3 separate regions of the Homo sapiens genome follow, and regions 2 and 3 are each linked to region 1. The links come from fine-mapping of genetic effects on gene expression. A gene starts in region 1. Each other region holds a variant in brackets. All regions are shown on one strand. Distances are between the middles of the regions. Region 1 holds the start of CACNA1D (calcium voltage-gated channel subunit alpha1 D). Region 2 overlaps CACNA1D (calcium voltage-gated channel subunit alpha1 D). Region 3 overlaps CACNA1D (calcium voltage-gated channel subunit alpha1 D).

Region 1 (2,674 bases):
CAAAGGGGAGGGCTGGCCAGGAGCTGCTCCATCCTCCCTCGACCCAGCCCCGGCCGGCGTGGAAGCTGCACGTGGTGCCCGGGCCAGAGCTGGGGAGGGGAGCCCCACAGCGGCAGCGGCTCCCCGGGCATTGCTAGGTTACCGACGTGTGCACAGCCGGCGACGGGAGCGGGAACGCACGCTCCACCCGAACCCCTTTCCCCGATACCGAGGCCGGGCCTCCCCCGCGAGGGGATGGGTGTGCTTCACCCACCGGCGCGGAGGGCGAAACCGGGCAATCCTAGAATTTTCCGGATGCCACCAGGGACCTTCTTCCTAGTCAACGAGGGGGCGGGGGAGGAGTGGAAGGCGAGAAGAGGCTGGCAAGGGGGCTCCGGCTGAAGACTTGCGGCCCTCCTGCCATCGCTCGGGGGCGTTGAAGGAAAGTTGAGCCCGAGGACACTGAACCCGAATCACCCCGACTCGCCGCCCCTCCGGCTGCACCGCGCTCCACACACTCCACGGCCGCCCCCACCCCACAAATGCAGAATTAACTCTGACATTCAGGGCCTGGAGGGGAGCGCGGAGTGGCTGTCACGCATGTCCCCTCTCTGTGTAGACGACACCGAGCTGGCAGCACCCTCTCCAACCCCCTCAACCCATCCAGCGCCGCGGGGAAGGGGGAGGGGGCTGGAGGACCATGACAGGATCGGATTTGGCAGCGGGTGCCCGGGCTCTGGCTGCTCACCGTTCGCGTGGTCCGCTTGCTGCTGCCGTTGATGCTGCATTTTTTTCATCATCATCATCATCATCATCCACGAACATTTATTGAGCGACTACTGTGTGCAGGGCACTGTGCTGGGCGTTGAGGCGGGGGCGGAATGGGGAAGGGGATCACCAAGAGGTAGGAGCCGCGGTCCCTGCCCTTATTCTCGCTTCAGCAGGGGGGTGGGGAGGGACGGGGACAAATAACAGAAAATAAGGATAATTGATTTAAAAAAAAAACCGCTCGCCACCCAAGCTCTCTCTTTTTCAAAAATGGAGCAAAATAAACTTTTTAAAAAAATAAAATCCAATGTATATATTATCTTAATAATATATACATGTAATTTTTTGCTGCAAAGGAGAACTGGCTTGTCCCCTCCTCTAGCGGAGAGACGCCGCGGTGATGCCGGCCCGGCCGCCGGGGCCGCTCGGCGCTCCCCCCATGCCCGCCCGTCTGCCCGCCCGCCGCGGTGCCCGGTGCCCGCCGCCGCCGCCCGCGCCGCCGCTGGCTCGGGACCGCGGGCAGCCGGAGCTCACATCCGGGGACGGAGGCGCTCGCCCGCCCGCTCGCTCCGCGCCCGCCGCGCCGCGCCGCACGCCGGCTTCGCCCTGGCGACGCTGCGCGCCCGCCGCCGTCCCCCGCCCTCCGCCCGCCCCGAGCCGCCCACGGCCCGCGCCGCGCCGCGCCCCGGCGGGTCTGCAGCCCGGCGCGCGGTTCTGCCCGGCACCACTTGCGCGCTCGGGGTGGCCGTCGCGTGGGACTCGGGGTGCCGCCACCCCAGCCTGGCCCGGCTGACCTGCGGGCTCCAAAGGGTTAAGCGCGCTCCAGCGGCGGGCTGCCCGGTTAACCCCCTCCGCGCCGCACGGTGCGCTCTCCCCCCGGGACCCGGAGGAGGCAGGCGGCGCCAGTGTCTCCCGCGGCGCTGGGGTGCGGATGAACCGCTCCTCCCCGCGCATTTCTGGGCTGGGGGACAGCTCGGGCTCCCGCGCCGGCCCCGACTCCGCGCCGGCCTCCTCTGCGCACACCTGGAGGAGGCCCCGCCCCCTGGGAGCTCAGGTGCTAGCGGGCGGTAGCTGCTGCGGTCTCCGAGCTCATCCTCGTCAAGGCTCGGCCGGGCTCCCTGGCTGCTCCGGAGCGGGGCAGGCGCCCCCTGCTTTTCTCCGGCCCTTTCTGGAATCGGGGGGGTTGGGGTAGCCCGGGTCTGTAGAGAGCACTCACTACCCCAGGTAACTGCCTGCAGCTGGAACCGCGAATCCAGGGCGCCCCCCATCTTCTCCCCTGCCCTGCGCCTGGCCTGGCGTCGCGGAAGGCAACGGGGATGGGGGGCAATATCTCCCCCCACCCCACCCCGCCCCCACGTGTGTTTGGAGGCAGGTACAGGGAAGTCAAAGCCAAGGTCTTTCAAACCGCTCGTGTTGTTCAAGGAAATAGACGGTGCTGCTGAAACTGTTGCCTCCAGTCTGGGAGCTGAAGGGAGTAGTTTATTTTTTGATACCTTCGCTGGCTTGGATTTAGGGTGGGGGAGATTTGCAAACGGCAGCTCCTGTCTAAAGGGGAAAATACTTTATCTAGTGGATGACTGATATTTTTCATTTAGCTTTGTGCTGCCTGTTAGGAGAAGGGCGTCTGCTTTGTTACTTCACAGGATTCGATTTATTTGCTTTTGTTCCTATCTGCATGTTCCTACGGCGTTTTAGAACGTTTCAGAACAGTGACTTTAAAGCGAAAATAAAGTAAAAGCTCAGCGTGAATTAAGAAAAATAAGTGTTTATGGGAAGGTGCTCCTTACCCAAAGAGAACACACTAGTCATCCTCAATTGTTGGGGGGCACCTGGGCAGAGAGACTGGGGACCAGACAGAAGACTCTCCAGAGGCCTTCCTGAGGGGGTGTCTGGTCCGTGAGGATGAAAACAACCAGGCTCTTGTCCT
Region 2 (2,674 bases), 180 kb before region 1:
TCAATGACAACTTAAGGTTAAATTGCAACATTAGACATAGACATTCTCAGCCCCTCCCACAGAGCACTGTGATCAGAGATGGAAGTATTCATCTATATTCATGCATGGCTGCATAGGGTTTACAGTTCATAAACTTCATACTTACCTTGAGGGAAAAAAGACTGTTATAAAACCAAAGATTTTCCCAAAGCATCAGTGTTACAACACTTTACAAATAAACACCAAATCCAATGTGCAGATTAAAGTCTGTTCAAGAATACAATAGGATGGCATGGCCACACACATGACGGAGCCAAGGAGCAAAAACAGATACAGGTATTTCCAAATGGCTGACAGACTTGAAGACATACAGCACCATCTAACATTTCCTCGTGAGAAGGCAATCACATGGTCTCGACCAGCCTTTCTAAAATGAGGGCGTTTTAATTCAGTGCTTAGCGGATTACATTTGTGTTGGTCTGACAGTCCCTCAGGGTCTATGCAACACAAATTGTCTTCCTCTCAACATTTATATCCTTCTGGTTTTGCAGTACCTCTAGTGTTCCCTTAAAAAATTATGAAGACTCTTGAGGCTAAAATTTAAAAAAATAATAATAATTTGCTTAAACAACAACAAAAATATCAATGGGAAAGTAAGAGGGGAGTAGCAGGCAGAGAGGGAAGGTGGTGGTTGGGAGGGCGAGGGGGCGGAGGGGCGGAGGTGGAGGCATGCCAGCCCATCGTCAGTCGCCGGGGGAGATGCCTCCTCATCTCTCTAGTGCAGCTCACAGAGCCTCTGGGTCTGCACCTCTACTGAATATGTGCCCTTCTGCACTGCTTCAAAATGGGCTACCCCATGAGATAATGAACGCCTAAGCACAAGGCCGCTGTCTGTGTCTGAGACATCCTGGCACCCCTCGCCTCTGGACCAGAGCCGGGCACTCTACAGGATCTCAGGAAATACTGGCCAAATCAGGAACAAAGCTGCGAGGCTGTGCTTTGCAGACATGGTTCTGCCTTTACCCAAACCAGCCCTACCGGAGGCCTTCTGGGGGAGTAGAGAGGAGGTCATGTGCAGCCTCTAGGGGTTTGAGCACAGCCCGCACTGACAGTTAAAAATCGCAGAGAAGTCTCGGGTTTTCTTTTATAATTTC[A/G]TGTGTCATTTCCAGTCTCCTCCATCAGGGATCTAAGTTTTGTTTTGATGAAAAAATATTTTTTAAAAAAATTATTTCCCCCCAAAATATATTTCAGTAAACTGGTTGTTCCATGAAGGAGTGTACCTTTTTTATCCTCCAGCTTTGGGTACCTCCCACGGAGTTGCAGGTTTAATCCCCATTTGTGATAGTGGGAAGCCCCCCCGCCCATCTTTTTCTCTTTTCTTTTTTTAAGCACCTCACGATCTGGCTCCTGCCTCTACTTCATCATGTCTGCTGGGGCAACGGTTCCTGCCTGGGAAAGCTAAAAGATAAGGGATGTCACCGGCACTGTTAAAATTAGTGGTTTCCATGGCCTCCGTCAGTTTAGCTGGGTTTAGGAGACATGAGGCGCCAAGGAATTCACAACAGGATTGCTGTTAACCTTGTATAGAAAGCTCCTGTGGCAAAATCAAATGCGATGTTATTTCTCCAGGAATAGACACCACCCTCACATGTCCAACCCTAGCCTAAGGCCACTGAGGTTTACTAGGAGAGAGACACTTCTCACGTTGAGGTGGAAGGGCCGGAGGCTTGAGGAGCCACTCATCTACAGGAGGCGGCTCAGGCAGGGGAGGGTTATGTGGCCCCATCCCAGGCTCAGCCCCCACTCCTCTCTCTGGCGGGCACTGGCCCCTGGGCCAACTCTACATAGGGACTTCCTGTGACAGTATGCGTCCCTGGTGTGGAACTGACTACATTCAATCCAGGGCAGGTTTAGGGGAAGATGCAGAAAGGAAGCCGAGATGGATAAACGCACTCTGCTTTCTGCTCTGGAAAAGGCAGTGTTTCCAAAAATGCGATTAAAGCCTTTCACTAACTCAGCATACATGAAGACATCACTTCCCCGAGATACAGCCTCGGAAAGAGCAAGATAAAGTGAGTGAGGAGGAGATAAACTTGCCTGGAATCAAATCCATCAACACTACTTCCTGAGGGTGCCTGGGCGCAGCGCAGTGACAGAGGCTCCTCTGGGAGACGTGGGCCCCTCTTGGCCTCCTGGTATCCTGCCTGCCCCCCACAACCCGGCAATGGCTGTATGAAGGAGCTGATTGTGAGAGAGCCATACAGCCCCCAGCTCCCTTCTCTGTAGCACCCCACCTTCTGGGGGTGTCTGAGAGGCGGTGTGGATGCAGGGCTGCCCACAAGGGTTCTGGGATGGCATCTCCAGCTACGGGCAAGGCAGAGCCTGCAACATAAGGAGTTCCCTTTCCAGGCCAGAATCTGTTGCACCCTCTTTATGGAGAGTCAATCCATAGAGAGGAAGTGATAAACAAGCAAACTTCAAAAATCGTGACTGAATGACGGGGTCTCTGTAAGGCCATGGGAAATGTGTGCACAAAAGTCGATCATCACTCTGCATTAAGAGAAGGATTCTGTAAGTTTCGGTTAAAACTGAATCACAGGGACAGTTCTCACAATGACAGCACTAGAACACCAAGCTAATAAAGAATCCCAATCTAAGGAAGATTTTGAAACTGTCCAGTATTTATGTGCTTGAG
Region 3 (2,674 bases), 100 kb before region 1:
GGATCCCAATCTTATTCGCCATCTCTTTTTGGTATTTAAAGCAGTAAGTGGCTAAGCCTTGTTTCTGTAATGATGACAGAATTCTGTAACTGAAAAGAAACCCCAGGAGATCAAGAAGGTCTAAACCGGTTGTTGACAACAGATGCCATAATTTAATAACACATTTTGCTATACACACCCCAGCATTCCCTCCTGCCCTGCCCATCTGTCTGAATCACCTCCAGGCACATGTCACAAAATGCCTTATGATCAAATGAGCACATGTCCTCATGAAGACTAGACTGTAAACTCATCGAGGGTAGGAACCATGAAAAACCTTTGTAATTTTTTTCACCAATTCTTACCCTTCCTCATCTCCCTTGCTGCAACTTCAACTGCATTCTAGACAAACCGAGTTAGGTCAGGCAGGTGTCAGTAGAAACCAGGGTCATCCTGGAGTGGGTAAAAGAGTCAGGCAGGGGCCCAGGACAACAGTGGGTCTAGAGTCGGTAGACTCTGGTGAGTTGGGTCAGGGGGCACCGCAGGAAGCAATCCCAGATGTTGAATAGTTCCCGGGGCCAGCTGGAGACAGAGGACAAATGGATGTCTCCTCCTACTCATTGAAAGCTCCATGGTAATCCAGAGCTTCAAGGCAACCCTATACTGTGGGTGAAAGTTCCAGGGGTGGGATGGGGGAAAGGTGCCATGTTTTCCTCTACTCCTTGGTTTGGCCTCTGGTGTCCATCCTGTTCTTCCAAATGAAAATATTCTTAGATCCACCCAAATCCTCCAAATGCTGTCCACCTGGTCCTCCCGTGACTGCATCCTTGCATTCTCCAGTGGGAAACAGGGCACTGTGAAAACAAGCCGGCTGAGCTGGCTGTCAAAAACCTAATTATTAACCCTAAGGGGGACTACAGATACAAAGATTATACTCCTTACTACACAGCTGTTTATAAGAGTTGTGTGGGACTAATGCACCATTTTAATAGCTAAACAATTAGCATCACTAAAATAGATGACCAATGTATAGACAACATGGAAAAAATACCAATTGAAACCTGAGGAAAGAAATCAATAGCAAAACAACAGGACATTAAAGCTGAAACGGACTGAACTCCCACCATGCCTAATGCCTGATCAATAGACGAATTCAAGATCTGATTTTCATATCTGGGTGACTCCTGTCATTTTTTCCTCAATCTGCAAGTCTCAAGGGACTTTATTTCTGATGCTCTGATCACAAATCTTCACATCTTGGTCAAGGGGAAGAAAAGCAGGATCCCTGATGCCTATGACAGTGGCTGCCACATACACACAAGGGTGTGGAATTGTACTAACGTGAGAAAGGTAAGAAGGCTTCAAGAAGGCTGCTGCTCTTTTCTGCATGCAGAGAGTGGGATCAGCCACCTGCCATTACTCCACAATGATGTTTCTTTCTGCCTTGAAGCCTCTGTATCTTCCTTCCGCCTGGAAAATTCTGTCCCAGAGCCCCACATGGCCTTCCCTGACCACCCTTACCAGGTGCTGTTGCATAACCTCCCTTTCTTTCCTACAGGAGGCAGGTGCTCTCTAAATCACCTCCTGTATTTACTCATTTGTCTCCTGAGTAGA[A/G]TGGAAGCTCCAGGCTGACCTTTTCACCAAATATCTCTAGTGCCAAGAGCAGTACCTGCTATCTAGTAAGTGCTCGACAAACACTTGCTGAAGGGACTGAATTGGCTAGTGGAAAAGCATGGCCTGAGGAACCTGGGATCGAGCTTATCCTGACTCTAGTCTCAGTAATCCCAAAGCATTTGAGCAACTCTGTCCCCATCCTCAGGTAAGGCCTGAGGGAGCCACCTTTGAGACCAACTCAGGTTGCTTCGAATGCTGTAAAATAATACAATTATTGTCTGAAAGTGGTTTTCTAACTTTTGTCGCTAAGACGAACCAGACTTCACACTTATGGGTGAAAGCCTTTCTGTTCAAGGGCGTCTCCCATTCCATTAGCCTTTACACACACGGACACACGTGCACACTCCCTACCTCACAGACTCCTTGTCAGACTCTGCCAGGCCTGGTGGGCTGTCACTGAACTTGGTTTCTGTTGTTCCTTCTTCTAAGACTTCACCTTACTCACTTCTTTCTCTTTTTCCACCTTCTAAGAAAAGCTGCAGCTCCCTGAAGAATGCATCCTAACATCAGCGTTTCTGACTGAAGCTCCTGCAGAGCTGGCTGGGACTGCAGCCATCTCCGCTGGTGACCCAAGCACTGAGGCAGTACACGGGCCACATTTCCCAGCCCTGTAGCAGGCAGATAAAGCACTTCCTTCTGCCCACGTGCTAGTTGGGAGTGGGGAGAAAGGGAAAACCAGCTTAGAAGGAAAAAATCCCAGCTCCTTGGGTGGCCTTGGAGCACTGCTCTTCCCACACTTTGAGGGGGAAGAATACCCACTGCCCTTTCCTTTCACCTCTCCTGCACCTGCTCATGACTTCAACACCAAGAGGGATTTCCTGATAATTTTACAATCCTCAGACACCCTCATATACAGAGCTACAATCAACCAACACTCCCATCACCACCAACTGCCCAAGCACCTTTGGGAGCAGAGTGAACACACCAGGCTTGGGGTGTATTTCTTCCAAAGTATTTACCACTCACACATCTGAGGAGAGAAAGTAGGAGGTGCTGGGGGGAGTTATTTAATTCCACTTAC

The links. PIP is the estimated chance that this variant, and not a neighbour inherited with it, causes the effect. A credible set is the group of variants that fine-mapping cannot tell apart.
Region 2: its variant is the best candidate, but not a certain one, in a credible set for the expression of CACNA1D in whole blood (TOPMed, PIP 0.51).
Region 3: its variant is the best candidate, but not a certain one, in a credible set for the expression of CACNA1D in whole blood (TOPMed, PIP 0.78).

What each region holds. Positions count from the first base shown.
Region 1 is chr3:53,493,287-53,495,960 of GRCh38, reverse strand. CACNA1D (calcium voltage-gated channel subunit alpha1 D) reads right to left here and starts at 1,350. Exons shown (of 48, transcript NM_001128840.3): 1 at 728-1,350. The coding sequence starts at 794. RefSeq lists enhancers at 1-285, 286-1,071, 1,402-1,901.
Region 2 is chr3:53,674,284-53,676,957 of GRCh38, reverse strand. The region is part of intron 8 of CACNA1D (calcium voltage-gated channel subunit alpha1 D); the gene reads right to left. Among named protein-coding and RNA genes, the nearest start is that of CHDH, 170 kb to the left of the region's middle. The variant A/G (reference allele first, on the strand shown) is at 1,134.
Region 3 is chr3:53,593,412-53,596,085 of GRCh38, reverse strand. All of the region lies in intron 3 of CACNA1D (calcium voltage-gated channel subunit alpha1 D), which reads right to left. Among named protein-coding and RNA genes, the nearest start is that of CACNA1D, 100 kb to the right of the region's middle. The variant A/G (reference allele first, on the strand shown) is at 1,594.